2 linked regions of the Homo sapiens genome follow. The protein of the gene in region 1 purifies or fractionates together with the protein of each later gene. This does not show direct contact. Each region holds a gene or a part of one and is shown on either strand. Other genes may lie near its edges. The genes, in order: PLS1 and PARVA.

Region 1 (3,817 bases):
AAGGCCCCCCCCACCCCATAGGCCCCAGCTTTGACCTGTGAGAAAATGTGCTCCTCTCCCTCCTCTTGATGAACCTAATTACATAGAGAACTTACTCTCCTGGGAGTCTCAAAATGGAACTCAGCTGAGAGCGTGCTTCCCTCCCTTGCTGCCTGAGCTCTCTTTCCATTTCCTGGTTCTGCTTTACCTTCCCCTGAGTGGTTCTGTGTTCCCAGGATATGAAAGGCAGGGCCGCAGCTTCTGGCTTCACCGGGCTAATTTTTGTATTTTTAGTAGAGTCGGGGTTTCACCATGTTGGCCAGGCTGGTCGCCAACTCCTGACCTCAAGTGACTCGCCCGCCTCAGCCTCCCAAAGTGTTGAGGCTGAGGCCACCTCTGGCCCTCATTCTCTCAACATTCAAAAGCTTGTCACTTCATCCAGTTCCGAATTAACATTTTACTCTGGCTGATGATGAACGTCGGGGAGAAAGAGACATTTGTGCTGCATACGGGTTTATTGGTTATAAAATGGTTATACAATTTTGATTGCTGGAAACTTTGCTGACATGTAAGGTCACATGAGATGTGAGGCTGTTCAACTTTGATCATCTGATTTCTTTTTAGCACTGTGTCTGAAAGTGCCTATGTGCCGTTTTTGGTGAGACATATGTAGCATGGCTTCTGTAAAGGCACGTTGCTTTTTATTATAGTAATATTGTGGGCACAGAAAGGGTGAGGAGTTAGATGATTGGGAGAGTTTTTTCTTACTTAAAACACTTGTTTCATCAGAAAATATTTCCTAGCAGAGTTAGACATAGCTTTGTTCATAAAGTCCAGTGGTGAAGGGACTTCAGACTTTACGATAAACTAAATTTTATGATTGACTTTTGTGAGCAATTCACAGCTATAAAACTACGAGACTGGCTGGGCATGGTGGCTCACGCCTATAATCCCAGCACTTTGGGAGGCTGAGGCAGGTGGATCGCTTGAGCTCAAGAGTTCAACACCAGCCTGGGCAACATGGCAAAACATCGTCTCTACAAAAAAATTATCTGGGCATGGTGGCGCGTGCCTGTAGTCCCAGTTACTTAGGCTGAGGTGGGAGGATCATTTTGAGCCCAGGAGATTGAGGCTGCAGTGACCTGAGATTGTGCCACTGCACTTTAGCCTGGGTGACAAAGTGAAACCCTGCCTCAAAAAAAAAAAAAAATACCTACAAGAACATCTGGGTGATAACTCACTGCACACAGACATGCCTCCTTCAAAAGATCCAAGCTGACCACAAAAAAAAAGGAGAAACTGTCTTTTCTTGATAGTAAATTGGATGGAGACATTAGTAAGGTAGAAGGTGTCTGAGGGGCTTCTTCATGATAAAAAGCAAAAGGTTTTGGGGTGTCACTGACCCAAAATATTAGCAGAAATCAGATTTACTCTATTATTGAGGAACACAATACATTAAATTGTTTATAGATCCAGTTTCAAGAAAGAAGATGTTTATATTAAAAAAATGACAAAAGCTCCTTCAATTTTTTTGAGAACTAAGAAATAAGAGATTTTAGCAGTACTGCCAAAATAGAATTTGGATTTGAATTTAAGACACTGGTAAATGTGTGTGGAAGGATCGGTCTTGTTAATTACACCTTGGACCAAGGGCTGCTTGGAATGAATAAAAGAGGGGGAAAGGTTTAGACAAGTAGAATCTCTAGGTTGATATCAAGTTAGTATTTATAATCTTTGTAAATAAACCAAAACCTCTCAAAGACTCCTGCTGTCTCTTCCTGGAGAGCACTCTGAATTCTTTCCTGGCGGTCTCCCTTTTCCTTCCCCTCTCCCCAGGTTTAAGATCATTGGGACATCCTTTTGGTCAAGGAAATGTTTCTAAGAGTGACCTAGTTATTGGAATTTTAAGTGTTAATCAGGTCAGTGAGGTGCCATCTGTGAAACACAGCTCACCAAAACCCAATGTTTTTCATCAGAAGTTGTCATGGAAGTGAGTTGATTTTGGAAAAACAACAATAATAGCAATTTGCTTGATCCCTTTCTTATCCTCAAATAGCCAAATTAAATTCAAGATTATTGGCCAGGTGCAGTGGCTCACGCCTGTAATCCCAGCACTTTGGGAGGCCGAGGCAGGCGGATCACGAGGTCAGGATATTGAGACCATCCTGGCTAACATGGTGAAACCCCGTCTCTACTAAAAAATACAAATAATTAGCCAGGCGTGGTGGTGGGTGCCTGTAGTCCCAGCTACTCAGGAGACTGAGGCAGGAGAATGGCGTGAACCCGGGAGGCAGAGCTTGCAGTGAGCTGAGATCACGGCACTGCATCTCCAGCCTGGGCAGCAGAGCAAGACTCCGTCTCAAAAAAAAAAAAAAATTCAAGATTATTATCAGTGGAAAAAGGAAATCTGAAAATCTCTGAATGTTTAGTGGTCAATTAAAATGAGTCTTAGGGCAATTTAAAGTTTAGATACCTGAAACCAGTTGGCCTATGATCAGAACCATGGATGAGAAGTCAAAGTCTGTGATTCTGTTTCTGACCCCATGAGAAGGAAGGCCTTCTCTTCAGCTGTAGGTTTGATAATTAAACAAGATAGTGGATGTGAAAGTAACTAGTCAACTACAAGATAGAGGAAAGGCATTTATTGATGTTTAAAAAAGCTTTCTGATTTTACTTCCTTTCACTGATAAGTGGCCAAGACTTAGAGAATGACTTGCCTGCTGGAGGTTGCCTGATTTGAAACTGCCAGAAATTAAACTCATAACTGTGTCTTATAATTTCAACATTTGAAAAAATGTCAGGGTTAATTTTTTTGAGACAGAGTCTTGCTCCGTTGCTCAGGCTGGAGTGAGGGGCACAATCTTGGCTCACTGCAACCTTTCGCCTCCCGGGTTCAAGTGATTCTCCTGCTTCATCCTCCCCAGTAGCTGGGGTTACAGGCATGTGCCACCATGCCCAGCTAATTTTTGTATTTCTAGTAGAGACATGGTTTCTCCATGTTGTCCAGGCTGATCTCGAACTCCTGACCTCATGGGACTTCAGTCTAGCTCCAAATCTAGTGCTCTTGCAGTCAATTCATATTTTCTTCTGTTACTGACCATATGAAATAATTCCTCTATGAAATTTATGTGCAATTTTTATAAAAGTCTAAATGTATTTTATGGCTAACCCTCAACTATGGAGCATATTAACATTAAAATGAGTTCTTGAAATAAGAGTTGATTAACATGGGAAAATATCCATCTCTTTCATCTTGAACAAAGTAGTTTTGTTTTAAAACTTATACTTCCTGCTAATGTACATCTGGAATGTGTAGGATAAAAGATTAAACTTTCTAAATATTTTACAAAGTTATATTCTCCCTATGTGATATATATTGTTCTGTGGGAGACTAAGCCTTAATTGAAGTATTTCTGCAAGGTTACTATAAGCATTTCTCATACCACTAGGACAATAAATAATGGGAGAACCCAAAACATTGTAATTTTCTAGTAATTCAGAGGAAATAACTGAATCCTGAAACATTGTACAAAAGGGTACACAATGATACCCATTTTTGCATGTTAATGTATTATTAAATATCAGTGGGAATAGTCTGCATGCTATTTCACATCTCAGGCACACTTAAGGAAGACCTTGTGATGTGCATGTTGCTCATTTAATCTAGAAAGGATACCAAGATTCATTTAGAACTTCTTTATGCACAGTTTTTTTTTGAGTATGTTATGTCCTGAGGCATTAAGGGTATTACTAAAGCAAGCAGCGGGACTTCTCAGAGAAATTAAAGGTTTCATATCAACCACACGTTGTCAAAATCTTCACTTTGAATAGGATTAAA
Region 2 (3,817 bases), on another chromosome or scaffold:
AATTTGCACCTGGGAGGCCTGGCCCCAGAGCCCACATTCATAACAGCTGCACTCTGCTGCTGTAATACTGAAGAGAGATGGGAGAAAGAATGCCCAGCCCTGTGTGACACTAGTCCTTTCTCTGTTCAGAAAGCACAGATCTCCCCAGGAACCTCATGCCATTCACCTTGGACATCACCTCCCCCTCCTCCCTCTGTCCCACTCTAGCCAATCCTGCTCATCCTCAGCTCTCCACTCAGGCTCTGTCCCCTCCAGAAGACTCCTCTGATGCCTTCAGTGCTTGTGGGCGACCTTTCTCAACCTCACTCAGGCCAGCGAGCTTCCTTCCATCAGAGCAGCTGTGCCTTGCCCCCACACCAGTTTCCCTATTAGACTGTGTACTCCTCCAGGGCAGGAGCCACACTGACCACCCCCCACCCCCCACCCCCCACCATGCTCTGGTCCCCATGCCTAGACCAGGAGTTGGTACACAGCCTCTGTTCAGTAAATGCTGGGTCAGCTGAGATCAGGGCCTGGGCTTGTGGCTCCTGTGCCAGCCAGACGTGGGGCAGAGCAGACCTCCTTGTCTCGGGCCACTGCCCCTACCCCCGAGCTAGCAGCCTGGCTGGGGTGGTAGGCTTCAGGTGGCATAGCACAGAAGTTGATGGGCCCCCTGGATGGGGATTGGCTGGGAGGCTCAGGGGCCAGTGCCATCACCTGGCTCTTCCTCCAGTTTGCAGATGGGGTGTACCTGGTGCTGCTCATGGGGCTCCTGGAGGGCTACTTTGTGCCCCTGCACAGCTTCTTCCTGACCCCGGACAGCTTTGAACAGAAGGTAAGGAGAAGGGACATCAAGGGAGGCCCCCTAGCCCACATCCCCTGACTCATGTGCCCACACCCATGCTGGGGCTATCCAGAAAAAAGGCAGAAGCTTCCCCTCTGCTCAACGTCTTCAGTGCCTGGAGGTGGGACCCATTATAAGAGCTGAGCTGGGAAGGAGCTACCTGCAGACCACTGGGCATCCCTGACTGCCTTTCCCTTGCCCTGAAGCCTGGCCCGGGTCCCCTGCCCTGTGTCCCTGTCAAGTGCCCCAGCCCAGCCTCCTCTCTCCCCAGAGATGACAAGGAAAGTGACTGTGAAGCTGGTCAGCCCTGAGGCTCATGCTTAGCCTGGTTCTGATGGCCTCTCGTAGGCTGCCACATCCTGCTCGCTACACAAAGGCATTTGACCAGAAAGCCTGCTCTGCCTGTTGAACATGTCCTGCCATCTGATTCTTCCAGACGTGTGCACTGACACCCCCAATTTGAAGTCCTGGCAGTTTACACAGGAACACAGTAGGATATGAAGGGAGTTTTGTGCTTCTCCAGGAGTGCTTCTCCCAACAGCAAGCTAGGATCAGCTAGCTCACGCTCCAGGTGGCCTGCCCATTTTGGTAGCCATATTTCTCCTTGAAATTAGTTCAGCCTCTGTCCCTCTGGCTACAGTGCTGGGCTCCTTCACTTCCCAGGGCCAGGTCCTGGGGCTCCTGGGTGTGCAATGGTACATGCTGTCTGCATCTCTCTTGCCAGGTCTTGAATGTCTCCTTTGCCTTTGAGCTCATGCAAGATGGAGGGTTGGAAAAGCCAAAACCGCGGCCAGAAGGTACTTTGCTCTTTCCTGGGTTTGTGACAACAGAGTGAGACCCTCTCCCTGCACATGAGTACTCAGATTTTGTAGCAGAGGGAAGCATTTTCTGAAGCCTTCGTTGCTGGGGAAGGTGGGACTCGGTGCAGCTGCTCAGTCCCAGAGACCCTTTGTGAGCTGCCAGCTGCACAGCCAGGGGAAGAAAAGAATCTGAAATCCCACACATGCCATGCGTGGGATCGCGGGGATCAGGGACCGAGCAGAACTGCTGCTGCAGGAACTGCCCTGTGCCCAATTTCCAGGTTTTCCTGTCCCTGCACAGGGTGCTGACCTGCCAAAGAGCTGTGTCCCCGCCAGTCGGGGTGAAGGTGCAGCGCAGACAGTTCTGGGCTGAGCAAAACTGCTTCTCTCCTTACAGATGCGGAGCTCTGCCTGCTCAGACTCTGTCTGAGGACAGGCCATGATTTGTGGGGTTTGGGTTGTAAATATAAGTCTGAGGGGAAATGCAGAAGGGACAAGTGCTTCTGCAGCCCCTGCATACTCCTGCTAGGAGTGCACACGTGCATTCGTGAGCAGAGGAGGCACGCTTCTCTTAGTAGTCTTGGTACGGATGATTGCTTTCTGCCCCTTACTGACTGAAGTATTCCATTTCACCAGAGCTGGCAGGTCACCACTGTGTTGCAGATAATCTCCTGCATATGTCCCCTGGGAACACTGAGAATGCCATCTGTGGCCCTTTTGCTCGCACTTTTCTGGTAGTTTATAGGCAAGTGGATGAGTAGGAATGGTGGGCTCTCATGCCCCCTTCCTGCCTCTGCTCTGAGCTCCTCTATCCAAACCCCCACCTAGTGGGGGCCATGCCCTGGTCTAGTGGGCTTGAGACCCTGTAGACCATGATATAACAAGAGGGGTAAGACCTTCCTGAACCTCAAGGCACGTGTAGCCAACCAGGGAAGAGAAAAGTTGGAGCCAGTTAGCAAAATGAAATGACAGTCATGGGAACTGTTACGAAAGAGGTACAAGGAAGAGTCTGTGAGGACTGAGGAGGTGATACCACTTCTGTCTTGGGGGAGGAACAGTTTGATGGAGACAGTGGGGCTCAACCATAAGGACCAGGTAGGGCTTTGGTGTATGGAGACTGGGAGAGAAGTGTGTGCATGCCAGACAGAATGACAGCATGAGCAAAAGTCCCCCCGGGGAAGAATGGGGACCCTGTCTCATGACTCCTTCCAGACTCGTTATCTATTGACTCTAGCCAACAAAGGTCAACTCCTGTTCTCATTTATTACCACCTTGTCCTAAGCCCCTGGTCAACTGAGACCTGGGGGAGGACCTCTAGCAAGGCTGGTGTCCCCCTGGGGCTCTCTCTTTGGCAAGGCCACTCCAGCCTTCCTAATGCCATTAGGAATGGACTCTTCTTGTTCTGTGGGCAGATGATGAGCACCCTGCTTCTGGGAGGACAGACACAGTGAGAAAGTTCCGACCATCATTTTGCTTCCACTTTCTTCAACCACTTAATATGAAACTTCCTGGTTACAGATTGGAAGTACTTCTGCTATTTTAGAATTGGGATATTTCTTTCCCTTGGGACAGATAATTTTCCCAATATAAATCAATCTATGGGAATATTTTGGAATATAGGTGATATTTTTATGCAATTATTAAGTTGCTGAATGTGAAACTAACAGACTGATGTGGATGGAAAAACACGTGTTTTATTTGTTATGACACAGGGCATTATGCCCATGCTGCAAATTTCCAGTACGTAAAGGGGAATGGAAATAGCATTTTATGAAATTGTACTTTGAAAGAAGTGAATCCCAGCATTCCGTCTGGTTTTTATGCTTCTACCTGGAAAGTGAGATTTGGAAGTAAATGATGCAGACATTTCAAAGGGTGCCAATGTGGGTAATTCTTTGAGGGCATTTCAAAATCAAACTGGTTGTGGTGGAGGCATTTTTCATGGCAACATGTTTTTAAGGTCAGGAAAATGCATTCTCTGCTGTGCTGTTTAACACTCAAAGCTCTGTTGTGCCTTGAAATCCCCTAGAAACTGGGTTTGTATCTGAGATGACTTGCTGCCCAGGCTTCATGACCGTTTAGTGCCTGAGTTAGTGTAAGCCAAGGGTTAGCATCAAGTTCCTAACCAGTGGAGCAGTCGAAATAATGGCCAGGCATGGAAGCTCACACCTGTAATCCCAACACTTTGGGAGGC

Evidence for each region.
Region 2: the proteins of PLS1 (region 1) and PARVA fractionate together in Homo sapiens (co-fractionation; one large-scale study listed by BioGRID). This does not show direct contact.

Annotation. Positions count from the first base shown.
Region 1 is NC_000003.12:142,602,596-142,606,412, forward strand, and holds part of PLS1 (plastin-1), read left to right. Parts: intron 1-3,817. UniProt on the Homo sapiens protein: Actin-bundling protein. In the inner ear, it is required for stereocilia formation. Mediates liquid packing of actin filaments that is necessary for stereocilia to grow to their proper dimensions.
Region 2 is NC_000011.10:12,516,898-12,520,714, forward strand, and holds part of PARVA (alpha-parvin), read left to right. Parts: intron 1-712; coding exon 713-814; intron 815-1,547; coding exon 1,548-1,620; intron 1,621-3,817. UniProt on the Homo sapiens protein: Plays a role in sarcomere organization and in smooth muscle cell contraction. Required for normal development of the embryonic cardiovascular system, and for normal septation of the heart outflow tract.